Homo sapiens: one gene and its partners. The protein of the gene in region 1 interacts with the protein of each later gene in a pairwise test. Each region holds a gene or a part of one and is shown on either strand. Other genes may lie near its edges. The genes, in order: SLC71A2, LEPROTL1, ZDHHC24 and TMEM229B.

Region 1 (7,711 bases):
ACATTCGCACCATAGCAGGGAGTTAATATCCAGAATATATGTATAAAGAATTTTACAACTCAACAATAAAACAAAACGCAAATGACCCAATTTAAAAATGGGCAAAGAGGCCAGGAATGGAGGCTCATGCCTGTAATCCCCGCACTTTGGGAGGCCAAGGCGGGTGTATCACTTGAGCCCAGGAGTTTGAGACCACCCTGGGTAACATGACAAAACTGCAACTCTACAAAAAATACAAAAATTAGCTGGGCCTGCTCGTGCGCGCCTGTACTCTCAGCTACTTGGGAGGCTGAGGTGGGAGGATCGCCTGAGCCTGGGGAGGTCGAGGCTCCACTGAGCCGTGATCATGCCACTGCACTCCAGCCTGAGCAACAGAGAGAGAGACCATGTGTCCAAAAAAAAAAAAAAAAAGGAAAATTTGACACACGGCACACATGGACAAACCTTGAGGACATTATGCAAGATGAAATAAGTCAATCACAAAAAGATAAGGATGAATATGGTATGATTCCATATATATGAGGTATCTAAAGTAAGTCAAACACATAGAAACAAAGGAGAATGGTGGTTGTCAGGGAATGGGAGGATGGCAAAAAATGGAGTTGTTGTTTCATGGGTATAGAATTTGTTTTGAAAGAAGAAGTAGTTCTGGAAATTGGCTGCAGAACAATGTGAATATACTTACACTACTGAAGTCTACACTTAAGAATGGTTAAGATGGTAACTTCTTTGCTATGTGTATTTTACCACAATTAAACAATTTTTTAAAAATCAACCGTATTTCTATATGCTGGCAACAAACAATTGTGAATTTAAATTTTAAAAAATTACATTTATGTAATGATACCATTTACAATAACGTCAAGAAATATGAAACGGAATAATCTGACAAAAGATGGGAAAGACATGTCAACTGAAAACTACAAAACTCAGCTGAAAGAAATTACAGATCTAAAATAAATGGAGAGATACTACATTCATGCATCAGAAGACTTGATCAATTCTTTCCAAACAGATCTTCACGGCAAAAGAATACCAATAACAATCCCAAAAGGCTTTCTTGTGGAAATTGCCAGGCTAATTCTAAAATGCAAAGACCCAGAATCACTAAAACGACTTTAAAAAATAACAAGATTGGGGGACTGTTAGTTTTCAAGTCTTATGAACCTCCAGTAATCAAGACTGCAGGGTACTGATGTAAAGACAAATAGATCAAAGGAACAGAATAAAGAGTTCAGAGACTGACTAATATATGGACAATTGATTTTTGACAAAGATGCAAAAGTAGACCAGGCATGGTGGCTCACACCCATAATCCCAGCACTCTGGGAGGCCAAGATGGGTGGATAACGAGGTCAGGAGTTCGAGACCAGCCTGGCCAACATGGTAAAACCCTGTCTCTATTAAAAATACAAAAATTAGCCAGGTGTGGTGGCGTGCGCCTGTAATCCCAGCTACTCAGGAGGCTGAGGCAGGAGAATCGCTTGAACCTGGGAAGTGGAGGTTGCAGTGAGCCGAGATTGCGCCACTGCACTCTAGCATGGGCGATGGGACAAGACGCCATCTCAAAAAAAAAAAAAAAAAAAGATGTAAAAGCTATTCAATGAATAAAAACATATTTTTCAGCAAATGAACAACTGTTCATAAACAAATAATTTCCATCCTTATTTTGCACCATATAAAAATGTAATCAAAATTAAACACAAACCCAATTGTAAAATCTAAAACTATAAAGCTTCCATAAACATAGAAGGAAGGCCAAGCACAATGACTCACGCCTGTAATCCCAGACTTTGGGAGGCCGAGGCAGGTGGATCACGAGGTCAGGAGATTGAGACCATCCTGGCTAGCGCGGTGAAACCCCGCCTCTACTAAAACTGCAACTCTACTAAAAATACAAAAAATTAGCCAGGCGTGGTGGCGGATGCCTGTAGTCCCAGCTACTCGGGAGGCTGAGGCAGGAGAATCGCTGGAACCCGGGAGGCAGAGATTGCAGTGAGCTGGAGATTGCAGTGGGCAGAGATTGTGCCACTACACTCCAGCCTGGGCGACAAAGAAAGAGACTCCGTCTAAAAAAAAAAGAAAAAATAGAAGGAAATTCCTATGATTTGGGATTAGGCAACAATTTCTTAAATATGAAACCAAAACCCTGATCTATAAAAGAGCAAATTGATAAATTTCATCAAAATTTAAAATTCCTGTTCTTCAAGACACTGCTGAGAGAATGAAAAGATGGACCACGGCCTAGAGAGAATGTATTTGCAAATCATTTGACGAGGGACTTGCATCCCAAATATGTAACGAATTCTCAAAACTCAATTACAAGAAAACAACCAACCAACAACAACAACAAAAAATAGGCAAAAGACAAGAACAGACACTTTGCCAAAAGGGATATACAGAAGACATATAAGTTTAGGGAAGTTGGGCACATGGCTCACACCTGTAATCCCAGCACTTTGCGAGGCTGAGGCAGGTGGACGACTTGAATCCAGGAGTTCAAGACCAGTCTGGGCAACATAGTAAGACCCCATCTCTATAAAAAATTAAAAAATTAGCTGGGTATGGTGGCATATGCCTGTAGTCCCAGTTACTCGAGAGGCTGAGGTGGGAGAATTACCTGCGCCCAGGAGGTCAAGGCTGCAATGAGCCAAGATCACGCCACCGCACTCCAGCCTGGGCAACCAAAGTGAGACTCTGCCGGAGGAGGAAAAAAAAAAAAACTTATGGAAAGATACTGAATGCCACTAGCCATAGGGAAGCACAAATTAAAAGAACAATGAGACATCACTAAAGACCAATTGGAAGGGCTAAAATTGGCCAGGTGTTGGTAAGGATATGGATGAACTAGAATTATCATACAGTGCTAGCTGCAATGTACAACTGTACAATTACTTTTAAAATAATTAGTTTGGCAATTTATTTTATTTTATTATTTTTTTAAAGACGGAGTCTTACCATGTTGCCCAGGCTGGTCTCAAATCCCTGGGCTCAGGCAATCCTCCTGCCTCGGCCTCCCAAAGTGCTGGGATTACACGCATGAGCCACCATGCCCAGCCAACAGTTTCTTAAAAAGTTAAATACATCTACCATATGACCCAGCCATTTCACTCCTATTTACTTTTAAAAAAGTGTATTCTGTACAAAGATTGGCACACAGATGTTCACAGCAGCTTTATTTGTAATAGCCAAAAACTGGTGAGAAGCCGAAAGTCCATCAACAAGGGAATGTACAAATCGTGGTTCATCCACAAATGGACTACTACTCAGTAATTAAAAAGAATGAACTACCGATTTACATAACACTGATAAATCTCAAAATAATTTATGCTGAACTTTTTAAAAGCCAAAGAGGAGAATATGCTGTATTTATAAAATAACAAAAAAAAAAAAAAGCTAGAAAATTCAAACCAGCTGGGGGCAGTAGCTCACGCCTGTAATCCCAGCACTTTGGGAGGCCGAGGCGGGCGGATGGTCTGAGGTCGGGAGTTTGAGACCAGCCTGACCAACATGGAGAAACCCCGTCTCTACTAAAAATACAAAATTAGCCTGGCATGGTGGCGCATGCCTGTAATCCCAACTACTTGGGAGGCTGAGGCAGGAGAATCACTTGAACCCAGGAGGCGGAGATTGTGGTGAGCCGTTATCACGCCATTGCACTCCAGCCTGGGCAACAAGAGTGAAACTCCATCTCAAAAAAAAAAAAAGGGGGAAGAAAATTCAAGCCAATATATAGTGACAGAGTAGATAAATTATCGCCTGGAAATGGAGGTGTAGAGGGAGGTAAAAAGAAACATTTGAGGGTGATGAATATGTTTACTATCTTGATTATGATAATGGTTTCACAGGTGTATAGATATGTCACAACACAAAACTGTGCACTCCAAACACACAGTTTATTTTATGTCAATTAAACTGAATAAGGTTGTTTAAAAAAGACAAGCAAATACAAAGCTAACTATAAAAAAGTCAGACTAATGCTGGGCACAGTGGCTCACACCTGCAATCCCAATGCTTTGGGAGGCCAAGGCAGGAGGATTCTTTGAAGCCAGGAGTTCGAGACCAGCCTGGACAACAAAGCAAGAGCACATCTCTACAAATAAAAATTTAAAAATTAGCCAGGCATGATGGGACGTACGTGTAGTCCCAGCTACCAGGAGGCTGAGGCAGGAAGATCACTTGAGCCCTGGAGTTCCCGGGTGCACTGAGCCATAATCACACCACTGCACTCCAGCCTGGATGAAACAGTAAGACTCTTGTCTCAAAAATAAATAAATAAATACACATTAAGAATAGATTTCTCTCCAATTCTCACAGAACAATGCTCTTGCTATGCCATAACCTCTTTCTCCATAGCATATCTAAGATTTCATAACCACTTGTGAAAGTTCTATGACATGCTGAACTGGAGGAAGGGAAGAGGAAAAGGGGAAGAGAGAACACATGTAAGAAACTGAGAAATTTCTTTTTTTTTTTTGAGAAAGAGTCTCGCTCTGTCGCCCAGGCTGGAGTGCAGTGGCACGATCTCTGCTCACTGCAAGCGTGGTCCACCTCCCAGATTCACGCCATTCTCCTGCCTCAGCCTCCCAAGTAGCTGGGACTACAGGCGCCCACCACCACGCCTGGCTAATTTTTTGTATTTTTAGTAGAGACAGGGTTTCACCGCGTCAGCCAGGATGGTCTCAATCTCCTGACCTCGTGATCCGCCTGCCTCAGCCTCCAAAAGTGCTGGGATTATAGGCGTAAGCCACCGCGTCCAGCTGAAACTGAGAAATTTCAAAAATGCTTCCATAGGGTAATAAAGCATGTTTACGTGTATACAGCCAAAAGGATACCTAACAGTAAGAAAAAATTAATGTATTCCTGTTACGTAGAGGAGGTTGTATGCACTTTTACCATTACCATTGAATACTTTCCTGGATATTCTAGTTCATTTAACATCAAAATAAGATATAAAATTATCAACACGTGCAATATTTGTGAATATTTATCCAGAAGATCCTACAAAATTAAATATTTTTTGAAAGACAAAGCACAAGTTATCAATGCAGAGTACCAGCCAGGCATGGTGGCTCATGCCTATAATCCCAGCACTCTGAGAGGCTGAGGCTGGAGGATTACTTGAGGCCAGGAGTTCAAGACAAGCCTGGACAACACAGTGAGACCCAATCTCTACAAAAAAATTTAAAAACTAGCCAGGCATAGTGCCACGTGCCTATAGTCCTTGCTACTAGGGAGGCTGAGGCAGGAGGATCATTTGAACCCAGGAGTTTAAGGTTACAGCAAGCTATGATTGTGCGCCACCGCACTCCAGCCTGGATGACAGAGTGAGGCCTCACCTCTTAAAAAAAAAAAAAAAAAGGGCCAGGCGCAGTGGCTCACGCCTGTAATTCCAGCACTTTGGGAGGCCAAGGCAGGTGGATCGCCTGAGGTCAGGAGTTCAAGACCAGCCTGGCCAACATGGTGCAACCCCATCTCTACTAAAAATACAAAATTATCCGGGCATGGTGGCACAAGCCTGTAATCCCAGCTACATGGGAGGCTGAGGCAGGAGAATCGCTTGAACCCGGCAGGCAGAGGCTGTAGTGAGCCAAGATCACACCATTGCACTCCAGCCTGGGCAACAACAGTGAAACTCCGTCTCAAAAAAAAAAAAAAGGAAATGCACACCAAGAATCCCTACAGAAGGTGAAAAGAGCCTACGAGGTCATTATTCACAGCTTTATGCCAACTAATTTGACATTTTAGATAAAATGGGCAAATTCCCAACAAAACACAACTTACTGAAACTGACAGAACTAAAAATCAAACAGAAAACCTACGCTGTTCTAGAATTAATCTCCAAAAGGCCAAGAACTATAAAGTTCTAGAACTGTATTACCAATCTTACACAAATTCTTCCACAGAATAGAAAACCAAACTATCCAATTTGTTTTTAAGGCAGATAGCATTTGGATATCTGTCTCCTCCAAATCTCATGTTGAAATGTGACCCCCAGTGTTGGAGGTGGGGTCTAGTGGCAGCTGTTTGGGTCATGGGGGCTGATCTCTTCTCAATTGTTTGGTGTCCTTCTCACAGTAATGAGTGAGTCCTCGCTCCATTAGTTACCACAAGATCTGATTGGTTTTGTTTATTGTTTGTTTTTGAGACAGAGTCTCACTCTGTCACCCAGGGTGGAGTGCAGTGGCGCCTCCCAGTTTCAAACAATTCTCCTGTCTCAGCCTCCCAGGTAGCTAGGACTACAGGTATGCACCATCACACCCGGCTAATTTTTGTATTTTTAGTAGAGATGGGGTTTCACTATGTTGGCCACGCTGGTCTCCAACTGCTGACCTTAAGTGATCCACCGCACGCGGCCAAGATCTCATTGCTAAAAGGAGCCTGGCACCTCCTCCCCTCTCTCTCTTGCTCCCTCCCCAACACGTGATAAGCTGCTTCCCCTTCGCCTTCTGTCCTGATTGCAAGCTTTCTGAGGCCCTCACCAGAAACAGATGCTGGTGCTAAGCTTCCTGTACAGCCTAAAGAACCACTTTTCTTGATAAATTCCCCAGTCTCAGGTATTCTCAGGTATTCCTTTACAGCAACGCAAACAGCTAACATACACCTCCTTTTTTTTTTTTTGGAAATGGAGTCTCGCTCTGTCGCCAGGCTGGAGTGCAGTCTGTCGCCAGGCTGGAGTGCAGTGGCACGATCTCAGCTCACTGCAACCTCCGCCTCCCAGGTTCAAGCGATTCTCCTGCCTCAGCCTCCTGAGTAGCTGGGACTACAGGCGCCTGCCACCATGCCCAGCTAACTTTTATATTTTTATAGAGACAGGATTTCACCATGTTGGCCAGGATGGTCTTGATCTCTTGACCTTGTGATCCGCCCACGTCAGCCTCCCAAAGTGCTGGGATTACAGGTGTGAGCCACCGTGCCCGGCGACACACCTCCCTTTTCTAGAAGGAAATGATCTCTTGGAGTAAATACTTGATTCTCTTTTATTTTTCAGATTATGACATCTCTCTGCCAGTATCTTTTTCTGGTCAATATATCTCTTTGCCAAATAAGGTAGAAAAAAGTTGTCAGGCCAAGCATCATGGCTCTAACCTATAATCCCAGCACTGGGAGGCTGAGACAGGAGGATCATTTGAGCCCAGGAGTTTGAGACCAGCTTGGGAAACAGGAAGACTTCATCTCTACAAAAAATAAATTAAAAAAAAAAAAAAAAAAAAGCCAGGCATGGTGGCACATATCTGTTGTCCCAGCTACTCAGGAGGCTGAGGTGAGAGGACTGCTTGAGCCCAAGAATTTAAGGCTGCAGTGAGCCATGACTGGCCATTGCAGCCTGGATGACAGCAAGACCCTATCTCAAAAAAAAAAACACAGAAAACAAAAAAGAAAAAAGTTATCAGCTGGACAATCTTCCCTGTGATTACTAGTAGCATCTAAGAACCTGAAATCATGAGTGTCACTGAAACCAAGCTGTAAGGAAATTCCAACACATTAAAATGAAATCAATTCATATAGGGGCTATAGGACACAGCACCCGGAGGTGACATTAGAAACTGCAAACAGGAAAAACACATAATTCAGGGGTACTAGCATATGACACAAACATATATGATTAAAAGCATTCACTGTTCTCCCAACGTCCACACACTCAGAAAAACACTGCTACCTGCTCATGCTAGCCTTCTCACTATCTACAGCAAACACCAAGAAAACTCAG
Region 2 (7,711 bases), on another chromosome or scaffold:
GACTTCTGGGCTATGAAGAAGCAGCATAAAATTCTACAAGTTTCTGTTTATAAAGGAATGTGCTTACTCTTCCTTAATATAAAAATCTATCTAGAGTAGATTAAATTTTAGCATATCACAGATGGAAACACACCCATGTACATTCTTTTGAAGGGGTGGGAAAACAATTGCCTTCTCCATATGGCTGTCTTCTCTACCTCCCCAGAGATGAAGGCGCGTGGATCAGTGAGTTTGGGAGGAAGAACTGAGTACCCGTAGCCAGCCCCTTCCCCTCTTCAGTGCTTTTCTGCCTGCAGAGCACATGCACCTTCTCAGGTCTTCCATATTTTAGGTTTTACAGGATAGGCCTGGGTTGTTCAGCACTGGGGGAGTTGATATGCTCAACTCTGACAGTTAAGTATTAGCAAGCCAGACGGGTGCGGTGGCTCATGCCTGTAATCCCAGCACTTTGGGAGGCCGAGGCGGACGGATCACGAGGTCAGGAGGTCGAGACCATTCTGGCTAACACGGTGAAACCTCGTCTCCACTAAAAACACAAAAAATATCAGCTGGGCGTGGTGGCGGGCACCTGTAGTCCCAGCTACTCGGGAGGCTGAGGCAGGAGAATGGCGTGAACCCGGGAGGCAGAGCTTGCAGTGAGGTGAGATCACGCCACTGCACTCCAGGCTGGGCGACAGAGCAAGACTCCATCTCAAAAAAAAAAAAAAAAGAAAAAAAAAAGTATTAGCAAGCCAACAGCTGCTGCAGATCCAAGCCACGTTCTCCAATATCACTTTTATTAGTTAACAAGAACAAACAATAAAGTGAGATTTTAATCTCTATCTTCTAGGCTCTTATGTCTTTCACCTCTTTTCATGTCATTAACAAAAACTTTGCTTGAGAAAAATGTAACACATGTTCAATATAAAATCATTAATGGAAGAATATATTCACTTACCAGATGTGCTCTGGCAAATACAATAGGGAGTCCAAAAGCTGACACGACAATGCCCGTTGTAAGAAAGATGGCAAGTTCCTTACAAGCGTTACTCATAGCATCTGTATCATCCACTAATCTTCTTGCTATGCAGTATGGAATAGGTGAAAGGATGTAAAAAAATAGAACAAAGAGGGGCCAGTATTTGCTAGAAAAAGAAAAATAAGTTAATGTAATTTTTGCTATGTCATTTTCCTACACACAAAATATGGTCTTTTTAAAAAATCAAGATTCAATCGCTTGACTTCTAATGGATGATACCCAACCTTAGCATAAAGCTGAAACAACCCTAAACTTCCCTTACAACACGAGGAACTCCCAAATTACAGAAATCAAAATACAGAAAAGAAGCTAAAAGTAAGAACACTTTCAGTCAGAATATAGAATTTATCACAATAAAAATAGATGGCTTTTACTCTACATCTAGTTAACTGTATTGTACCACAGTCATTTCCTGGTTTTGATAACTATGGTTATGTAAGATCTTATGACTCTGGCAGGCTGTGTGGAGGGTACAGGGGACCTCTGTGTATGATTTTCACAACTTCTTCAGAATCTAAAATTGTTTCAAAATAAAAAGTTAAAAAGAAATAGATGCCCTTAAAACTACCATAGAATAAAATAGGTATCATGGTGGAGATCTGATTGTACAGAGGCTAATGATAAGCAGCTACTTATGTTTCCTAAATTTTTTTTTTTTTTTTTTGAGACAGAGTCTCGCTCTGCTGCCCAGGCTGGAGTGCAGTGGCATGATCTCGGCTCACTGCAACTTCTGCCTCCTGGGTTCAAGTGACTCTCCTGCCTCAGCCCCCGTGACTAGCTGGGATTACAGGCGTGCACCACCATGCCCGGCTAATTTTTGTATTTTTAGTGGAGATGGAGTTTCACCATGTTGGCTAAGCTGGTCTTAAACTCCTGACCTCAGGTGATCCACCCACCTTGGCCTCCCAAAGTGCTAGGATTACAGGCATGAGCCACTGCGCCTGACCATTTCCTAAATATTTTAAGAAAAAAAATTAAAAATTGAATATATGCTTAAGAAAAATAATTCAAACAGTACAAAAGCACAAAAAGTAAAGACTAAAAGTTCCAAATCTCCTCTTGCCCACTTTCCTATTGAGCTTCTCAGGGACCCTTCCACATTTCCACATAAACTTTAAAATATGAATGGGTCCCTGCAGTTTTCTAACAATATGTCTTGAACATATTTACATGTTAGCACTTACAGCTCTTCCTCATTCTTTTTAAGACTGCCTAGTATTTCCATTAAAAGATTTACTATAATTTAACCATTTTTCTTTTGAAGGACATTTAGGATGTTTTCAGAATTTTTTTTGGCTCTTATAAATAACGCATAAAACAACAAAACAAAAACAAAAACCAAAAAATAAACAAGGCTGCTTGAACATCCATACTCTCCCCCACTAAATATATCTTTGTAAACATCTGCAAGTGGGTTTGTATCAGAAAGTCTAACAAGTGAAAGGGCTAACTCAAAGAATATATACTTTGAGAGCTACAAGCAAACTTATCTCCAAGAAAACTATCTATGTGTACTCCCCCCACAGCACAAAAGAGTCCCTGCTTGCCCTGTCTCTTGTCTTTGTCAATAGATTTTGTTTAGTTTTGAGTGAGGCTGGGGATATTTTTATGTGCTTATTAGCAATTTGTAGTTCTCTTTTTGTATTTATTTTTCTATTGAGTTGTCCATCTTTTTCTAATTTATCTAAATGTTAAAATGTTAACTTTGAGAAGTTCTTTCTATCCTAAGGAAAGAAATTTTTTTTTTTTTTTTGGAAACAGAGTCTTGCTCTATCACCCAGGCTGGAGTGCAGTGGCGTGATCTTGGCTCACCGCAACCTCCATCTCCTGGGTTCAGGCGATTCTCCTGCCTCAGCCTCCCGAGTACCTGGGACTACAGGCATGTGTCACCACGCCTGGCTATTTTTTTGTATTTTTAGTAGAGATGGGGTTTCACCATGTTAGCCAGGCTGGTCTTGAACTCCTGACCTCAGGCAATCCTCCCGCCTTGGTCTCCCAAAATGCTGGGATTACAGGTGTGAGCCACCGCACCCGGCCGGAAAGTAATTGTTTACATCTCTCTCTTTTTTTTTAATTGTGTTTTGACTGCTTATGGTATTTTTTTGCAAAAAGACATTTTAAATTTTCTTGTAATTAGTATTATCAATAGATGTTAAAAACTGAGCAGGAGGGCTGAGGTACTGTGTAGCTATCTTGCCACTGCAGACTCAGCAGTAGTGAAAGAGCAGGTAACAGCCAAAAATATTATTTGCATCTTGGTGTCCTAAAATCTTTAGAAACAAACTTTAAGTGGTGATTTTTACAAAGGTATGTGTTTGGTAAGTGAACATTTCTCTGCATTACTTTTACAGTAGTAAAAAAACATTTTTTTAAGCTTTAAAAGTAGAAAAATTTTACCCTTAAATATTCAGAAAGACAAACATTTTACATACTTGTATATTGGAAGGGCACATCCAAGCATCAAAAACATCAGTCCGATTGCTCCTCCAAAGGACAAACTAATCAAAGCTGCAAAGCAAATAAAAAGTGCAACAGGAATATAAATTAAATATTATTTTTATTAATATCAGCAGTCTGAACATTATCTGTAACCTCAGAAGCAAAAATCCCTAAAACGTATTAATAGCAAGTTGCCATCAGAAGTGTAAGTTATCTAGTCTTAGAATAAGTCTTCTGTGGTATCTTCAAGGCAAAATGAAGTGACACTGGCCTTTTTTTTTTTTTTTTTTTTTTTTGTGAGATGGAGTTTCACTCTTGTTGCCCAGGCTGGAGTCCAATGGCTTGATCTCGGCTCACCACAACCTCCACCTCCCAGGTTCAAGTGATTCTCCTGCCTCAGCCTCCTGAGTAAGCTGGGATTACAGGAATGCACTACCACATCCTGTTAATTTTCTATTTTCAGTAGAGATGGAGTTTCTCCATGTTGGTCAGGCTGGTCTCGAACTCCCGACCTCAGGTGATCCACCTGCCTTGGCCTCCCAAAGTGCTGGGATTACAGGCGTGAGCCACCACATCCAGCCAGTGACACCGATTTTTAAAGCTCTAACCTACTGCTAGTACCCCACCATATTCCCCAGACGCTGGTTCCCTTTCTAAAGAGTCAAAGTCCACAGGCTCAATGCTCTTCTGGGCATTAGAATTATATTTACTTCACAGATCACTACAGTTTTGAAAAGCAGTATGTGGAGAAACTCCACATGCTCAAGTTTACTGGACTTTAGAAACCTCATCCTATAGGAAAACCTCTTCTAATCAGCTCCTGTTTCTGGCACATACACTCTCAATGTGCATAAAACTGACCAGAAAAAATGCCCGAGAATATCTGTAGTTAATGATTTTAATCAATTAATTTTGTTGCAAATCTTTAAATAGTTTGCAAAAGTAGAGCTGGGTTTCCTTCCCTAATCTACATTAGAAAATCTGTAGGACAATGGGTTATAATCCTTCTGAGGTATCACTACTTTAACATGTTATTATAAGCAATAGATGCATTCTACAGGTGAAATATAGTTTCTAAAGCTACGCGCGCACACACAGACACACACACACACACACAGCAGTACATTTTAAGGTGCTCTCACGTTAGTGAATAGAAACAACTTTCTTGAATAGGCATAGTTAACCAATGACCTAGACTAAAGCAAAGAAATAAATGATAGCCGAGTGCAGTGGCTCACGCCTGTAATCCCAGCACTTTGGGAGGCCAAGGCGGGCGGATCATGAGGTTGGGGGTTTGAGACCAGCCTGGTCAGTATGGTGAAACCTTGTCTCTACTAAGAATACAAAAAATTAGCTGGGTGTGGTGGCACATGCCTGTAGTCCCAGCTACTTGGGAGGCTGAGGCAGGAGAATTGCTTGAACCCGGGAGGCGTAGGTTGCAGTGAGCCTAGACTGCGCCTTTGCATTCCAGCCTGTGCGACAGAGCAAGACTCCATCTCAAAAAAAATAAATAAATAAGTAAATGATAAATTTATTTTGAGTTCTATATAACCTGTATTTCTACAGTTACAGTGGCTAAGAAAATAACTAGTTTTGTTGTTGTTAGGTCATTTTATTAAAATTCAAAAGTTAAAATTCGAAAGATTTGTAGAAGGTCTAAAAGTTACCAAAACAAAGGCTAACATAGAGAAACCAAAATGAACAGGAAACAAGTTAAACTTTGCCAAGTACTACTGATATACTCTGCACAACTAAAACAGTCATAATCAAGGACACCCCATGACATAGTGGCTTGGCAGATTTGGTTTTTGGTTAGATCGCTGATGCAGGTCATGGCAACCCCGAACACATCACTTAGTCCTGAATACCATTCTATTTCCAGCTACAGGAAAAGAATTGCATTTTTACTTTACAGCAAACGAGGCACTTCAAGTTTACAGGGGAATGCAATATAAACTGTAAGGAAAACACTGAATTTACCATTTGTTTTCTTCAGTTCCAAATTGGTTCTCATGACCGGGCCCTGCCCACCTCTCCTGTGACGTGTCACACCAGGCTACTACAGTGTCCCTGAACCCTCACTTCAGTTATACTGGCCCTCTTTCCTTTCCTGGAAATCAGCAGACTTGCTCACTCACGTGGCCTGTGCACACTTTGTCCCTTCTGCCTCAGACATTTTTTCATTCAAGAAATATTCACTGAGCACTAAATATGTGACAAGCACTAGGGATACAACAGTGAATGAGGCATGGTCCTTTCCCACTCCTCTCTACTTTCCTCCAACTTAACTCCTGCTTTTCCTTCAGATCTCAGCTCAACCAGTGAAGTGTTTTTTTGCTGGTTTTTTTTTTTTTTTTTTTTTTTTTTAAATGGAGTCTTGCGCTGTCGCCAGGATGGAGTGCAGTGGCGCGATCTTGACTCACTGCAACCTCCGCCTCCCAGGTTCAAGCCATCCTCCTGCCTCAGCCTTTCTGAGTAGCTGGGACTACAGCTGTGCACCACCATGCCTAGCTAATTTTTTTTTTTTTTGTATTTTTAGTAGAGACGGGGTTTCACCACATTGGCCAGGATGGTCTCCATCTCTTGACCTCACGATCTGCCCACCTTGGCCTCCCAAAGTGCTGGGATTATAGGCGTGAGCCACTGCACCTGGCCTCAGTGAAGTTTTTCCAAACCTCCTGATTAGACCAATTCCCTGTTATATTTATTTATTCATTCCTCTAACAAACATCTATGGAGCACCTAACGTGTGTCAGATACTGTTCTTGCTACTGGAGACAGAGCAATGACAACAATCAAAGCTTTTGCTCTCACGTTCTAGTGGGAGAAGAAAATGATTTTTAATAAGCAAGTGAATAAATGTCAAGTGATGACAAACGTCAGGTAGAGTAAGGGATGGGAGTGCTAGTCTAGATACAGTGGCCAGGGAAGGCATCTCTGATGAAGCACCACCTGAGCAAAGATCTGTATGAGGGGAGGGAGGAAATCATGTGGGTATTTGGGATGAGTATTCCTGGCAGAGACCCGTGTATGCTGAGGTCCTCTGTTCACTGAATGCCTCTCCTTTGCTCAATTATCAGCTGCGATTTCCTACTGGTTTGTATTTTGTCTTTCCTTCTCAACTGTCCATTTCACGAAAGGAGGGAGCAAGTTTTTCTGTTGTGATGATCGTGCCTGGCTCTTAACACTCAACAAATATTTGTGGAATGAATGTAGCAGAGTGGAAGCAGCATGGAACTGAGACTCTGGAGGGTCCAAGGCCCTAATAGTTACTAACTAGTTGTCCAAGTAATTTATGAGTCTCAGTTCTTCCTTCTCTAAAATGACAGTTGGACTAGATCTTAAATGCAGATAATTTTCTGAACACTAAAGGTACTGTTAAGACAGCTAAGTCCATTACTATAAATACTACCTAGTAACACCTCATTCATTCAGAAGCCATTTATACGCAACTTAGAATCCTGGAGAAAACAAAGGCCACTAAAAAGAGACAAAATAGATGTTACAAAGCCCATATACTAAAGCCAACATTCTCTATAAACAGACCCTTAAGTTCTTATTTATACTAACTCATTTTCGTGACACAATTGTTAGATGGGAATTCAGAGTAAAACACATTTTTATTTTAAAGAATCATCTATGCTCACTTATATATATTTTTCAATAGGTAATTCATATACCCAGAACAAAAATTAAGTGAAAAGGAACTTTCTCTTATCAAAAGTAATCACTATTACCTATATACCTTGTGACACAAAATTTTCTAAGTTTATCTTCCCACACTGAAACAAATGGGAATTAGGAGAAAGAGTTGCATACAAGCAAGAATTGCCCTTTGACAGGAGGGAGGAAACAACAAAAAAAATTTAAACCAGGCAGAAAAATCTCAAAAAGCATGTTCACGGTAATCTCCGCAAGAGGCAAGCCACCTTAGGACCATGAGGGCCTCTGAAGGTGGCTGTTCTGTGACAGAGAACAGTCATTCAAGTTTTTATCAAAAAAGAAGGCCTAAATTCTTTGATTACACTCTTACAAAGTTAATGAAAAATGATTCCTTAAAAAAAAAAAAAAACCAAGGGACTAAAATGAGATAAGGCTCAGGTATCAAAAAACAATTTTAAAAACATAAACCAAGATTGTCTTATTGTAAGTGCTATGAATATGAATACTGGAATAACATTTGTTTGGGGGAATCAAGATACCTTGAGATAATACTTCTACTCCATTAAATACTAAATATGTGTGTGTGTGTGT
Region 3 (7,736 bases), on another chromosome or scaffold:
AGGTGGCCCTGGGAGCCATTTGGAATTCTTCCCCTCAGCCACCTTTCCTTCCTCAGACCAGCTTGCCAGATGCCCTGGGAGCTGGACATGGAAGATGATGCGTTAAATACTTGAGGGGCTGTCATTGCTAAGGAAAGGGAGTGAGCTTCCCATCACTGGAGGTATGTAAGTAGACACTGAGTACAACTTGATGGGAACCTAAGCACTGAATAGGGCAGTTAGATTTCCCACAGTTCCCTCCAACCCTGGAGTCTAAGATGCTTTGAGTTTGGAAAGGGCAGGGGGATAGGCAGGTCTGGGTGGTGCCAAACATGACTCTTTTTTTTTTTTTTTTTTTTTTTGGAGACAGAGTTTCGCGCTTGTTGCCCAGACTGGAGTGCAATGGTGCGATCTCTACTCACTGCAACCTCTGCCTCCCTGGTTCAAGCGATTCTCCTGCCTCAGCCTCCCAAGTAGCTGGGATTACAGGCATGCGTCGCCACGCCCTGCTAATTTTGTATTTTTAGTAGAGATGGGGTTTCTCCATATTGGTCAGGCTGATCTTGAATTTACAACCTCAGGTGATCCGCCCCCCTCCGTCTCCCAAAGTGCTGGGATTACAGGCATGAGCCACCACTCCCAGCCCAAACAAGACTCTTAATGAGATGTGGTTCCTGCCCTAAGGGAGCTCACAGTCCATCCAAGAGTCATTTTGGTCTGAGAAGCGCTGTAAGAGGTTGCCGAGGAATTTATGGGAGGGACGCTGCGGATCAGGGTCCCCTCTTGGGGAAGGCGAGTATTTGATCAGAGCTGTGATGGGCAGGAATTATTCAGGAAGGGAAGGGCAGGCAAGGGCATTTCAGGCAGGGGCTGCCATGCAGGCAAGTGCTCGGTGGCTGTGAGAAACACTTGCTACATTTGTCAGACTACAAGGATCTGGGCACTGCTGGAATGGAGCTGGGATTGTTGGGGTATAAGTGGTGAGAGGCAGGCCGGAGGGGCAGCAGGAGCCAGGTCATGTGTGATCTTGGGTGCTAAGCTGGGGAGTTAAAATTTGATCCGGAGGGCAACAGAGAGTCAGGGAAGCCTCAGGCAGGAGGGAGGTGGGCAGAACTGTCCATGCTGGTTGCAGAGTGGAGATGAATGGCTTGGCGTGGCAGAAGGCAGAAGTGAGGACGCAGTCACTGGGATCAGGGCAAGAGAGGAAGGGTGTCAGTGTGGGGGACAAGGCAGGATTGGATGGATGAGACAGAAATGTTGGAATGTAAGCTCCCATGGCAGGGGCTTTATTTTGTCTGCTGCCGAATTCCAGCACCTGAAACAGCGCTGGCACATGGTAAGACATCAGGTGGGAGGAGGCAGCGTGCTGCTCCAAGACTGTGTGAAGGAAGCCCTTGGATGGAGGAGTCACTGGGGAGAAAGGGAGCATAGAGCAACAGGGAGGGGTCAGGGCTAAAGCTGAGCACAAGGATGTTTATTACCACCTTGCAATAAACAACGCTGGACAAGAAAGAAATGAGCCAAATGTCCAACTACAAGGGATGCTGATTGATTTTCAGATCCTCTATGCTGTGCCAGCCATTGAATGAGTAGATGATGAGATGGTGACTGCAAGTTGGGATGAACAGATGTTCCTGATAATTTGTTAGGTGACAAAGGCAAGTTACAGACTGGCACGTGTCATATGGGGGGCACGCAGACCTGGATCTCGGAGAGGCCCGGGTGGGTGGGGGTAGGGATAGGAGATGTTGCAGAACAGGTGGCAGCTGGAGCCAAGGACAGGGATGACACCACCGGGAAATTGCCAAACCTGGGACTGCAGCCGTGCTTGGAGACAGGTGCAGGGGGAGCCTAAGGGGAGGCCTGTCACCCGGGGCACCCCAGCCGAGTCAGCGGAGCCTCTCGGCCCTTGGGGTCATCTCCTGTCATCTAACCCAGCAGAAGTACTCTGATTCTAAATTCTGGGACTCTCAGGTCATTTAAATTCCACTGAGTACCCCAGTACCCTGCCCTCTCCTGGAGTCATACAGTGTTGGCACACGCTGAGCAGGGTCCAATGGCCTCATAGTGCCCTCCTGGTTACCCCTGGCCTGCCACTCTCCAAAGTATTCTCCCTCTGGCCTGGATCATTTTCCCTTTGGGAACCCAGGTGTCCTGCCCCCTCTACTTGGGAAAGTCTGGGAGTGAAAATAGCTCAGGGAGGGAGGGGCCCTGAGTGCCCAACGGGCTGGGCCTGGGTAGCAGCTGCCCCTGTGCCCCTCTTTGGCGCCCCCGAGGTGCTGCCTCAGCACTAAGTGTCCATCTGGCTGGAGAGTCAGGTTACAGCGTAAGGGGACCCAGGTCTCCCCTCCTCCCCGACCTATGGCCTTTTCAGCAGACTCAGGGCCCCATGCCTGGGGTATCTTGGGAAAGAATGGGGGTAGGGAAAAGGGTAAAGATCCTCAGGTTGCGGGGGTCCTGATGTCTGACAGTCTGTGATGTGGGGCCTGTCTGTGCTCTTTCTGGGCTTCAGTTTCTTCAATTGTTAAATGAGATACAGCGACTATGGACCCCACCCTGGAGACGAGGTGGGGTGGGGTCTGAGAGGACCCTTCTCACTACCCCCACACTCCCAAGTCCACTAGTTGCCTGACTGCAAGCCTTCAGGGTGGGGTCTGGGAATATTTAACTAGAAGAAGATTCTTCTTTCTGAACCCCCCCTAACTTGGATCTCCTGGGGTTTGCCCAGCCTGTTTTCAGCAGCAGAAGTGGGGCAGTGGGCCCAGGGGAATGAACCCTGGTGGGGGTGGGGAGCCCAGAAACTCTCTTGTCATTTTAAACCCCTCTTGAGGGCTCCCAGCCCTCTCCTCCAGCCCTGGGGACAGCAGGCAGCTGATGGGCAGAGCCTGGGCTGGGGATTAGCACTCTAGGTTAAAGACAAGCTCTGCCCCTGCACTGCTGAGATGCCCAGGACAAACAGCCCGGCCTCTCAGGCCTCGGTTTTGCTGTCAGGAAATGGGCGAGCACTCACTTTCCGCTGCTGCTTCTCCCAGGCCGGGTCCAGCAGCAGGTCGCGGTCCCAGTCCTCCTCCTGTTCCATGTACTCGCCGCCCCCGCCGCCGCCCGCAAAGCGCCCCTCCCCGGCCCCCAGACCCTCGGGCTGCATAACCATCATCATCTCGATCGGGCTCCTGGCTTCGCTCCGCTCGGCACGCTCTCGGACACCCGGGCCCCATTAAGTAGGGCCCAGCCCAGCCCCAGATCGAATTCGCACTAAATATGGGGGAGGAGGGAGGGGCCGGATGGGGGTGAAGGAGCTCGGGTTGGACCTGGCAAGGGGTTGTCCTGAAGCCGGGAACTGCGGGACTCGGGGGCGCCGGGGTGGATCTCGCGGCGGAGATCCTGGGTTTGCATTCCTGCTCCGCTGCTGGGGCGCTGTGTGACCTTGAGAAATCCACGGGACCTCTCTGAGTCTGTTTACTCCTCTCCACAATAGAAAGGCCGATAATAATAGTGGCCGCGGGCCGCTCTAGAGGCTGCCCTCTGGAGCTCCTCGTGAGCCTCTTCCAGCACCTCGCTGGTGGGACACAGAGCCCTATCCCCATTTCACAGTCAGGAACACAGAGGCGCCGAGCTGTTTTGCATGTTTTCTGGGGTGATGGAGACACCCGGGCATGGGGAACGGCTCTGAGCCAGCTGGATGGGCTGCGGCAGGGCTATTAATATCGGGGCGGCTGTGGGGAGTAGGGGAGAATGTGCTGAGCCGGGAAACCCCGACACCACCCCGGCTGCAACTCAATCCCCCGGGCACTCCTGGCCCCCGCGCCAGCGGGCGGGGCTCCGACGGGATGGGAGGAGCCTCCAGGGTGGGCGGGTCAATCACTCCGCGGCGTTATCCGGGCTCCAGCGCCGCGGGATTCCGAGCGCCTCCACTGCTGGTCCGTTGGCCAGATCAACTCGCCGCGTGGGCCGGCCGTTCCCTGAGAGTCTGAGCGCTCGCCGCACCCCCTTCCGAGCTTCTATTGGCCGTAGCAGACGTCCGTCTGCCGCTATCTCCGCCCCAATACGGAAGCGGCCTAGTCCTCCGGCTCCGACAGCTGGGTGTCCAGGCCATGGGGCAGCCCTGGGCGGCTGGGAGCACGGACGGGGCGCCCGCGCAGCTGCCTCTCGTGCTCACCGCGCTGTGGGCCGCGGCCGTGGGCCTGGAGCTGGCTTACGTGCTGGTGCTCGGTCCCGGGCCGCCGCCGCTGGGACCCCTGGCCCGGGCCTTGCAGCTGGCGCTGGCCGCCTTCCAGCTGCTCAACCTGCTGGGCAACGTGGGGCTCTTCCTGCGCTCGGATCCCAGCATCCGTGGCGTGATGCTGGCCGGCCGCGGTCTGGGCCAGGGCTGGGCGTGAGTGGGGTGCGGGATCGGGCGGGGAGAAGTGGGAGCCTTGGACAGGGGGGAGGGGCCCCAAGACCTGAGATGTTAGAACCGGGTTACATTAGGATCCAGGTTGTTAGAATCAGACATTTTTTTAGAACCTGGGATGGAAGAGCTAGAATTGAGTGTTATTTATTTACTCGCAAATACTTATTGGGAGCCTACTAGGTGCAAGGTTTTGTTACAGGGACGAAGGGTACAATAGAACAAATTCCTGATTTGAGGGGGGTGCAGATGAGAAACTAGAGGAATAATAAGCAAATCATATAGAATGCTAGAAGGTGATAGTAGTTTGGAAACAAGAAGTAGAGCAGGGTAAAGGGGTTGCAAGTTTCAATATTAAATAGGTGGTTAGGCCGGGTGCGTTGGCTCACATCTGTAATCCCAGCACTTTGGGAGGCCGAGGCCGGCGGATCACTTAAGGTCAGAAGTTTACCAGCCTAGCCAACGTGGTGAAACCCCGTCTCTACTAAAAATATAAAAAAATTAGTCGGGCATGGCGGCACGTGCCTGTAATCTCAGCTACTGGGGAGGCTGAGGCAAGAGAATTGTTTGAACCTGGGAGGCGGAGGTTGCAGTGAGCCGAGATCGAGCCACTGCACTCCAGCCTGGGTGACAGAGCAAGACTCCCTCCGTCTCAAATAAATAAATACATAAATAAACAGGTGGTAAATTCTCATCACAAAAATATGAGTGTTTGAGGTAATGGCTATCCTAATTAGCTTGATTTATTCCAAGCTGTACTGATAAATCATAACATCACTTGGTATCCCATAAGTATATACAACTGGAATTTGTCAATTTATAATTAGAAAAAAAAATTACACCAGGTACAGGCTCTACACACACATTTTATGCCAGGCAGAGGCTTTTGCTGAGACTGAGGCTGTAGTGTGCTATGATCACACCTGTGAACAACCACTACACTCCAGCCTGGGTAATGTAGCGAGACTCTGTCCCTAAAAATTTTTTTTAATTAATTTTTAAAATAATATACATAAATGTGTGGTCAAGGTAGACCTCATAGAGAAGGAGGCATTTGAGCAAAAAACTTGGAGGGCGTGGGGGGCGGTTAGCCATGTGGGAATCTGAGGGAAAGGTGTTCCAGGCAGAGGTAACAAGTGGTGCAAAGGCTCTGAGGCAGTTGTGTACCCAGCATGTATGTTCCCAGAACAGCAAGAAGGCCAGTGTGGCTGGAGTGCAGTAAGAGAGGGGAAGAGATGTCACAGATAGAAGGATGTTGTAGGACACTGAAGGCTTTGCTTTTTACTAGAAATAAATTGGAGAACCACAGGAGGGTTTTAAGCAGAGGAGGGTCAGTTTGGTTGCTGGGGTGAGACCGTACGAGGTGGGGCAAAGGTGGAATCGGAGACCAGTCAAGAGGCTATTGCAGTAATCCAGAGAGTTCCTAGTGACCTGGACAAAGGGGTGACCGTGGAGGAAGGGAGGGATTTGCTGCTGGATGTCAGTGGCTTGAGAGAGGTCTCAGGACTGGGGATGTTAGGGCTGGAAGAGACCTCAGACCTGTAGTGCTAGAACTAGAAGGGCCTGGGACATCTTGTTTAGCCTGCATTTACTTGTAAAGAAATTGAGGCTTAGCCAGGGCAAATGGCTGTTGCCACTTCCGCAGGATGGGCTCTGGGGCAGCCCTGTGCACAATATGGGGCATCTGAGCTGCTGGGGGAACTGACGCTGTGGTTCCTTCCTGCAGTTACTGCTACCAATGCCAAAGCCAGGTGCCGCCACGCAGCGGACACTGCTCTGCCTGCCGCGTCTGCATCCTGCGTCGGGACCACCACTGCCGCCTGCTGGGCCGCTGCGTGGGCTTCGGCAACTACCGGCCCTTCCTGTGCCTGCTGCTTCATGCCGCCGGCGTCCTGCTCCACGTCTCTGTGCTGCTGGGCCCTGCACTGTCGGCCCTGCTGCGAGCCCACACGCCCCTCCACATGGCTGCCCTCCTCCTGCTTCCCTGGCTCATGTTGCTCACAGGTGGGGAGCCTGGGAGGCCTCTGCACAGAGGCAGGGGCCCTGGTATTGGGCTGGGGAGTACAGCCCATTCTGGTGGGAGACGGGCTTTCTGGCCTGGGGGACCCAGCCCCAGTGTCAGTGATGGCCAGTAAGGGCAGCTTGGTATTCACCCGGGGGTGCAGTATGGAAACTGGTGTGTTGAGACAAGTGCAGCGTTCTGGCTGGAGAATTGGGAGATTCCTGGAGTTGTTGAGAGAGGAGAAAGACTCGTGGGAGTCTCTGCATGGCGGGATGTGGAAGTGCATTCTAGGAGCATTTCTAAGTGAGAGAAGCAATAGGAACAAAGGCTTGGAGAGTGGGCAGGGAATTGTGAGAATTAAGGCCAGATTGGTAGGGGAGGCCTGGCTGGTGGGGTCCTGAGAACTGGTGTGAGGAGATGGCTCCTATTTGACTGGACAGTGGGGAGCCAGTGAAAGTGACAGGCAGGAGAAGGCCCAGTTATGGGAAGCTGGGGAGGGCAGACTTGGATCAGCAGGCTGCCTGAGATGCCATGTTCTAGACGACACATATGTTCCTCTTCCCCCATCTACAGATAGAAGCCTCGCTGGTCCTTTTTACTCTTTGTTCTCTACCCCCAGAATGCTTTGGCCTTTCTCGCCCCCATTCCTTCCTCCTGACCTTTCCATGGTTCCCTCTGTCACTTTGATCTGTGGTTGAGGAACCTCCCCGGCTACTCCGGGTAGTCACTGTGCCTCCTCATCCTATCCAAGCCCAGCTCTGTGCATGGACCCCACCTACAGCCCAGGGGAGGCCTCGGGAAGCGGCCCACTGGGGTTATCAGAATCTTCATCTGCCCACACCAGCTTCCCAATGGGTCCTCCTCTGCCTCCCTCCAGGAGTCCCGGCCCTTCAGCCGCACTGCCCTACCACCTTGTGGTCAACACTCACTCCCCTCAGTCACGGAAGACTCTGGCTCCAGTCACAGACTCTCTCTTCGCCCTGGGCCCTGTGGAAATCAAGGGTGTCTGGAAGTTTGCATGAACAGCCCCCTCAATGCCTGGATGGCTTAGCTCTTGGCCTCCTCCTTCATTTTTCCTTCCTTTCCCTCCTCCCATGTCCACACCCCAGTCCTGGTCAGAATCCAAAAATGAGTCACCCTCACAAACCACCCATCTTCCTCTTTCTGCTGCCCACCTCCTCTTCTCTCCGTCTTTTACTCCTCCACGCCCTGGCACCTGCTCCATGAGCCTGCAGGCTCGTGGCCCTCACCGCCCGTCTGTACCTTTCCACCTTCGCCACCGACGTCCAGCTCAGAGCTCATCCTTCTCACCATTCTCCTGCCAGCATCGCAAACTTCCTCCCTCATCTTCCTTCCACAGTGCTTTCC
Region 4 (7,711 bases), on another chromosome or scaffold:
CCGGGGCCCAGTGGACTTGCCTGGGCATATTCTTCTCATGGCAAGGGCAGAGGCACAAAGCTGAGCAAGGCTAGCTGTACAAGTGTGGTTCAAGACCCTGGCTAAGCCATGCCCACCATCATCCCACTGGCCAAGGGAAAGCCACCAAGTCAGCTACTAACTCCCACCCTTACCACCTCTTAAATATCTTTGGGATCCATCCCCTCCTCTTCATTACTCTTCTCATTGCTGCCACTGCTCTGGTTCACGCCCTCATCATGTCTCACCTGGATGACTCCAAAGGTCTCCCAGCTTTGCCTTCTTCCTTCTAATTCACTCATCACAGGATGAAAGAGTGTGTAGAAAAAACGCAACCTTTCTAAAATGCAAATCCGATGTTTCTCACCACTTGAAGCCCATGAGTGGATCTTCAACATCTACAGAGTAAATAAAGCTCAAACCCCTGGGGACGGCTGGCAAAGCCCTTCACAACTCGTCCCTGCCTCCAATCCTGTCCTCCAGATCTCTACCTTGCTGTTTTTGCTACCTGGGCCCCACCCAGGGCCGGTGAACCCTCCTTTAAGACCCAGCTCCTCCTCTGTGAGGACTTTCCTAAGCACCCTGACTCCAGAGTTGTCTTCCCACTTCTGCACCCTCCCTTCTCTGTGGTAATAGTGAGCACTCTGCTTCACTGGATTCATCTGAACGCCAGCACCAGCAGCCTCCTGAGGAATGCTTGTTTAAGATAGTGGTAAGAGAAAAAAGCAGGATTCAAAACTGAATATTCAACCTAACTCCGATTCTGCAAAGGCATGCATATGTGCACATATACAAAAAAATTAAACAACAATCATCTCTGGATGGTGATATCATATGTGCTTTTTTTCTTTATATTTTTCTGCATACTTTTTTTTCCTAACAAGCATGTATAACTTTTATAAAACTAAAATTTCATCTTAAAAATGCTTATGGAGGCTGGACGTGGTGGCTCACCCTGTAAACCCAGCACTTTGGGAGGCTGAGGTGGGTGGATCATGAGGTCAGGAGTTCAAGACCAGCCTGGCCAACATGGTGAAACCCTGTCTCTACTAAAAGTACAAAAATTAGCTGGGCGTGGTGGCGTGTGCCTGTAATCCCAGCTACTCGGGAGGCTGAGGCAGAAGAATTGCTTGAACCGGGACCCAGGAGGTGGAGGTAGCAGTGAGCGAGATCGTACCACTGCACTCCAGCCTGGGCTACAGAGCAAGACTCTGTCTCAAAAAAAAAAAAAAATGCTTGTGGAAGCTGGGTGCAGTAGCTCATGCCTGTAATCCCAGTACTTTGGGAGGCCGAGGTGGGTAGATCACCTGAGGTCAGGAGTTCGAGACCAGCCTGGCCAACATGGTGAAACCACATCCCTACTAAAAATACAAAAATTAGCCGGGCATGGTGGCATGCACCTGTAATCCCAGCTACTCGGGAGGCTGAGGCAGGAGAATCGCTTGAACCTGGGAGGCGGAGGTTGCCGTGAGCCGAGATAGCGCCACTGCACTCTAGCCTAGGTGACAGAGTGAGACTCCGTCTCAAAAAAGGAAAAAAAAATGCTTGTGGAATGAATATGTATTCACCGTATTCATACCTCGTGTATAGAAGGTGTTCAATGAATTTGCTAAGCAAATGAACCCAAAGAAACCTGAAGTCATGTAAAATTATTGCAGGCTCTTCCCTCCTGTGTCATCCAACAACAAACCATGCCTCACAGGTCTCAATATGGCCAGCTGGTTAAGTTCAGGGACCCCAGATGATCCTAACTGCCTGGGTTGGAATCCTGGCTGATGCTTTCCACCTGTGAGACCTAATGGACGCTGCCCAACCACCCTGTGCCTCAGGGTCCTTGTAGGTAAAGTGAGGATAACGGAAGTAATGACCACAGAAGGCTGTTGTGAGGACGAATGAACTCGTACATATACACTACTTAAAATACAGCTAAGGCTCCAGAAAGGGCAGCTGTCATTTCTGGCACAGAGCCAGACCTCTGGACAGCCCCTCCTGCTTTTACACCGCCTCTTACCCGATGCAGGGTCACTGTGCCCCTGCTCTCGGCAGCCTCCAGGCAGCCCTTCCTGTCAAGCAGGTTAGGTCTTCATCACAACCCTGAGCACCAAGCTAGCGAGCCAAGAAATCGGGTGGCAATAATAACCCCACATATGGCCCTCAGGAGAACAAAACTCCCACAGACATCCCGGGAGACTGAAGGTGAGCCTCCAGCTTCCCTGTGGCTACCGAGGGATGAATGGAAGAGGAAGGGTGTCAGAGCCAGCCCGAGGGGCAGACTTGAAAAGATGGTGGAATGAAAGGGGCACAGCCTCTCACCCCCTCATTTAACCTCCTACCCCCGGGCAGGAGAGAACAGATCCAGGCTCCAGGGGAACACACTGAGGCGGTCTGAGGGCCTGAGACAGATGGCACAGCACAGGGATGTGGAGACCTCTGGACCTCCTACCCCAACTCAGGCCCCATGACCTGCACGTATCCCCCTGGCTCTTCCAACCCCCAGGGCCCGGGCTGAGGGAACAGGAACCTCACAGGGGCTCTCCTGCAGCAGCCTGACATGACTGTGTGGATCTCATTACTCAGGCCAGACCCCAGCCTTGAAGCTGACTTTAAACCCTGCTCTTCTTGCCTCTGATCTCTCTGGGATGGCCCAGACCGGTTTCCCAGCTGGTAACAGACGGGAGGGTCCAGTCTCTTCCCCAACCCCAGCAAGTAACTTGGGAGAGTCAGATCCCAAAACCCTTGGAGCAGAAGCAAGAAGAAAGGGGTAGCTGTCAAAGGGAGAGAGAAACCTAGGGTGAGAGACAGGAAGTTGCTGAACAGAAGAGAGGATGGAGTTCATGCCTGCAGTCCCAGCACTTTTGGAGGCTGAGGTGGGAGAATAGCTTGAGGCCAGGAGTTCGAGACCAGCCTGGGCAACATAGCGAGACCACCATCTCTACAAAAAGAAAAAAAAGTAGGCTGGTTTGATGTGGTGTGCCTGTAGTCCCAGACGCTAAGGCAGGAGGATCCCTTGAGTTCAAGAGTTTGAGGCTACAGTGAGCTATGATTGTGCCACTGCACTCCAGCATGGACAATGAGCAAGACCCTGTCTCTTAAAAAAGAAAGAAAGAAAGAAAAACAAAAAAGCGAGATGGGGGAGAGAGAAATATGGTGTGCCCCAAGCCCAGATTCTGTTTCTGGGCAGCAGGAAGCCATGGGTAGTAGATGGAGGGGAAGCACACCACGGCAATGTCAGACAGTGTCCGAGGGCAGAACTAGGAGAACATAGCTGGTCCATGCAAGACCAACAGGGGAAATGAAAGACCTGAGTCAGGGCAGAAGATGGGGTTGAAGAGAAAGGAATAGGAGACAGTGTCATTGGCTGAGGTGGCAGCTCCCAGTGTGGTGGGGAAGATGATAATATTAGAGGCTGGGCATTGACTTGGATGCGTTTTCAGAACCCCACTCTCCAAACCCATTTCTAATCAGCACAGGAGCTGTGCTTAACTTTGAGCTAGGACAGGCTCGCCCACCCCATACAGGGCCTGACAGGCCTCTATTCCCTGCCCCGGCCTCCACCCACCCGACTCCCTATATCCTTAGGCTCCTTCCACTAGCTCCTTGCTCAGCCCTGGGATCAGAGCCCTGGGAAAGCCTGCTGCAGGGAGAACCGGCAGCTCAGGGGACCTTGGCTTCTTTCTCCTGGTGACAAACAAAACTGTCCTGAGACCTGTGACATGAAGATAGGACAGCCCAGGAACAGAAATTCAGGGTGGATTGAAGAGGAGGAGAGTGTGAGCAAGGTTGAATGCAGGAGGACAGAGTTTGGAGAGCAAAGGATAGCTTCACAAGCAGGGTTTCATTGAACAACATTCAAATCCGAGAGTCCTCATACCTGATGAAAGGGCCTGGGCAAACAGAGTCCCATCGAAGGGCCAGGACTCAAGGTGACTTGTGAGGTCTAGGAACTACCCCTTCAAGGGAACAGGTGATGGGGAAGGGGAAGGGGATCTGGCTTTCAGAGCCCTGTTCACTAAGAGCATCTCACCGGCTGCTCTCCGAGCCTGCTGTTCCACAGGGTGGCAGGGGACATGGCCAGCAGTTGAGAGGGGTAAAGAGGCTGCCATAAAAGTCTAAGACAGGCTGAAGGCAAAACCAGATGGAATAACTGCCCTTGGTTTTGTCAAAAACTCCCATCTTGTTTCAGGGGGCTAAGGTGCCACAACACAGTGACTCTGGGAATTTTTGTCCAGAGAAGCATCTGGCCAGAAAATTGGGATTCCCCTCCCATGCAACCGGGCTGGGAAGGCCTTCCGCTTTCACTCCACTCACTTCCCAAGCTTCACTCCCCATCCCCAGCCACCCCCATCACTACAGTTCCATGTTCTGGGGAGACCCACAGCCCTTCTAGGAGACCCCTGAGGCAACGCAGCGGGGGACAGCTTCAGGAGCCCTTGGGCGGCTCTGTGCTGAAGATAAGTGGCTTCAATGAGGAAAGGGCAGAAACCTCCCTGAACTTCCCCTGTTGTCATCAAGTTAGCAGGGAGGAAAATAGGGCTTGCCCAGGGCCAGAAGGGAAGCAAGTGGAGGGAAACTCCTGTAGCCACTGGCTGGTGCACATGCTGCAGACTTCCACCCTCTTGCTGTGGGTGCCCCCCAAGGAAAGCCCCTGGGATTAGTGATACTGCAGGCCTTGATGAAGTCCTCCCTCCACCTCCCAAGTCACAGTAATAATAATAACCAGGTGCTCTTCTCAGTATTTCCATGTATTAACTCAAAAAATTCTCAAGCCCATTTTACAGATGGGGAAAGTGAGGCAGAAAGAGGCTACGTTCTTTTTTTGTTTGTTTTTTGTTTTTTTAGATGGAGTCTCACTTTGTCACCCAGGCTGTAGTGCAGTGGTGTGAACTTGGCTCACTGCAACCTCTGTCGCCCGGGTTCAAGCAATTCTCATGCCTCAGCCTCCCAAGAGGCTGGGATTATAGGTTCCTGCCACCACACCCAGCTAATTTTTGTATTTTTAGTAAAGACGAGGTTTCACCATGTTGGCCAGGCTGGTCTTGAACTCCTGACCTCAAGTGATCTGCCTGCCTCGGCCTCCCAAAGTGCTGGGATTATAGGCACGAGTCACCACACCTGGCCGAGCCTACATTCTAATAACTATAAAAGGCAAGGCTGGGATTCAAACCCCACAAATCTGGTTCCAGAGTCTTTGCTCCTAATCAGCACACTGCACTGCCCCCGAGGCTGACTGCAGGCTCCTCTGAGGGCACTACCATTTTCTGAGTTCCTGCTTCTGGAAGGCTGGGATGGTATGTGGAGAGACAACAGGAAGCAAGGAGAAGGTTGTGAACTTCTAGGTGGTTCATTAACAAACTTCCCAACTGGGTGTCAGAGTTCCTAAAGGCTCCCAGCCTGTTCCTCGGGATCCACACAGAGGCCCTCCAGGGTCAAAGCTGACAGTCACAGGACCATGACAGCAACCAACCCTCAGGCCCCAAGGCATGCGCCATTCAAAGGCCCCTCACCAGGACACACACAACCCAGAGGCCCCCTGACTGCCAGCCCACACCAGTGCTCCTGGGAGTCTCAGATGGCCCGGCCCAGCCCTGCCATGGAGACACCAGCCAAGAGCAGGGGCCAGCTGCCCAGAGGAGCAACAGCCAGCATGTCAGGAGGAGCGGTCCGAACACAGAGGATTTCAGGGGGCCTCAGATCCCAAGCAAACCGCAGCAGGAGGCAGGGCAGGGTGAGTGGGCTTGGGGGATGGAGTCAGTTCTGGCACAGAGGTCCCTGGGGCTCAGAAAGCGAAGGATGCCCTGCACGGGGGACTGGCAGGCTGGCATCCCAGACCTGTATGTGGCTGCCTTGCTGTTACCATTCAGATCTCAGCTGAGCTGTCATATCTCAGGGACTTTTGATCCCCAGTCCAAAATAGCCTCTCTGTCACTCACATCATTCCATTTTATTTTCTACATAGCACTTTCACTTTCTGATATGTTGCTACTTATTTATGGTCTGTCTCTCCTCAACTAGAATGAAAACTTCATGAGAGCAGGGGCACTGTCTTGTTCACTGCTGTTTAGTCAGTGCCTAGAGTGGTGCCTGGCAATAATACCTAGTAATACTTGTGGAATGAATGGATGGATGAGTGGGCCCAAACAGGCCCAGGCCCTTAAACACTGATGAGGGCAGGTATAAACAGCTAGCTGCCTCGGTCTCTCTTCCCTCCTTTCTTGAGAAATATAGCCTTCTAAAACATTTAATTCTAGCATTTAATTTTTTTTCTAATTATAAAAGCAACATGTGCTCACAGCTGAAATTTAAACATTACAGAATGACATAGAAAGCAAAAGTTCCCTGTAATCACACATCTTAGAGAAAGTCACTATTAATGGTATGTTGTGTAGTCATCCGGATTCAATTTTATTTTTTAAAAAGCCAATCCATGCATCATAGAAGAAGCATTCATAGGCCGGGCATGGGGGCTCACACCTGTAATCCCAGCATTTTGGGAGGCTGAGGCGGGAGGACTGCTTGAGCCCAGGAGTTTGAGACCAGCCTGGGCAACATAGTGAGACCTCATTTCTAATAAAGAAAAAAAAAGAAAAAGCACTCATAATTCTGAACTAACAGCGATTACCATTTCTCCTTTGCAATATTTTCCTATGTGTGTATTTTACAAGTCACCATAATATACTTATTCTGCAACCTGCCATTTTTACTTGTCATAACTGTTTTTCCAAGTTGTTATATAGCCTCTGTGCTCATTATTATAATGGCTGTGTAATATTCCAGCAAGCGGAAAACTGTAATTTACTTAACCTAGATGTCCAAAGGGAACAGTTGTTTCCCATTTCTACTACTACAGATGATATAACGAGAATTACCTTTAATGCCTGTAATGGAAGAATTCAGCCCTTTTCTTCTCTGGTACTATTTCCTAATAATATATCTTAATGGATAATTCCAGAAGGAGAATCACTGAACCAAACGGTACAACAGCCTTAAGGCTGATGGCATAAATTGCTCTGGGGAGATGTGCCTCCCATCTGAGGAACGACGTTCCCACAGAGGCACCCATGGCCATCTCTTTACCCCCAACTCCCCTCCTACAGTCTAGGCTTGCTCACACCACCCTGGCTACAAATCAACTCAAGAACACACTTCCTGAGAAACTCTCCAGTCAAACTGACTTTGTAAGCCCAGGCTGAGTGGAAAACAGATTCTGGCCCTGAATTATAAACTGTCAACTAGGAGAGTCAAGATCTACCTAAAGTGGAAAAAGACCTGATTACCCCTTTTCTACTCCCTGCAAATTCCTGCATGGAATCTGAAGCTCTGGGTTCCCATGGACCAGCCTAGGAACTCCAAAAAAAGCTTGTCTGTTCAAGATTGCAAAAGCCCAGCTCTGCCTGCCATGCCTTCTGGGGAGCTTCCTTCCTGCAGGCCTCTGATCCCACCAGGCTACGGGCCCTGCACAGACATAACAGCCTTCAGGCCAGACAGGCCTCTGGGGGTTGGGAAAGCAGCCAATTGTCATTTTTTAAGGCATCATCAAGGAAAAGCCAGGGGCTGAGGCTGGAAAGAAAGGCCTGTGAGGACAGGCAGGGCTGTGCAGTTAGGAGCCTCTCACCCTACCTCGAGCTTGTCTCGCTGAGGAGGAGATGCTGCTGCTGATATGTGACAAAAGCAAGAGGACATGCTCCTCCAGATC

Evidence for each region.
Region 2: the proteins of SLC71A2 (region 1) and LEPROTL1 interact in binary tests that used the Homo sapiens proteins (3 or more experiments, as listed by UniProt).
Region 3: the proteins of SLC71A2 (region 1) and ZDHHC24 interact in binary tests that used the Homo sapiens proteins (3 or more experiments, as listed by UniProt).
Region 4: the proteins of SLC71A2 (region 1) and TMEM229B interact in binary tests that used the Homo sapiens proteins (3 or more experiments, as listed by UniProt).

What each region holds. Positions count from the first base shown.
Region 1 is NC_000009.12:94,377,037-94,384,747, reverse strand, and holds part of SLC71A2 (hippocampus abundant transcript-like protein 1), read right to left. Parts: intron 1-7,711.
Region 2 is NC_000008.11:30,097,713-30,105,423, reverse strand, and holds part of LEPROTL1 (leptin receptor overlapping transcript-like 1), read right to left. Parts: intron 3,527-7,711; coding exon 3,451-3,526; intron 1,125-3,450; coding exon 938-1,124; intron 1-937. UniProt on the Homo sapiens protein: Negatively regulates growth hormone (GH) receptor cell surface expression in liver. May play a role in liver resistance to GH during periods of reduced nutrient availability.
Region 3 is NC_000011.10:66,542,338-66,550,073, reverse strand, and holds the start of ZDHHC24 (probable palmitoyltransferase ZDHHC24), read left to right. Parts: upstream 1-4,025; 5' UTR 4,026-4,070; coding exon 4,071-4,351; intron 4,352-6,092; coding exon 6,093-6,370; intron 6,371-6,941; coding exon of another isoform or gene 6,942-7,066; exon of another isoform or gene 7,067-7,736. Other genes in the region: ACTN3 (alpha-actinin-3), read right to left, coding at 3,288-3,563. UniProt on the Homo sapiens protein: Probable palmitoyltransferase that could catalyze the addition of palmitate onto various protein substrates.
Region 4 is NC_000014.9:67,478,175-67,485,885, forward strand, and holds part of TMEM229B (transmembrane protein 229B), read right to left. Parts: intron 1-7,711.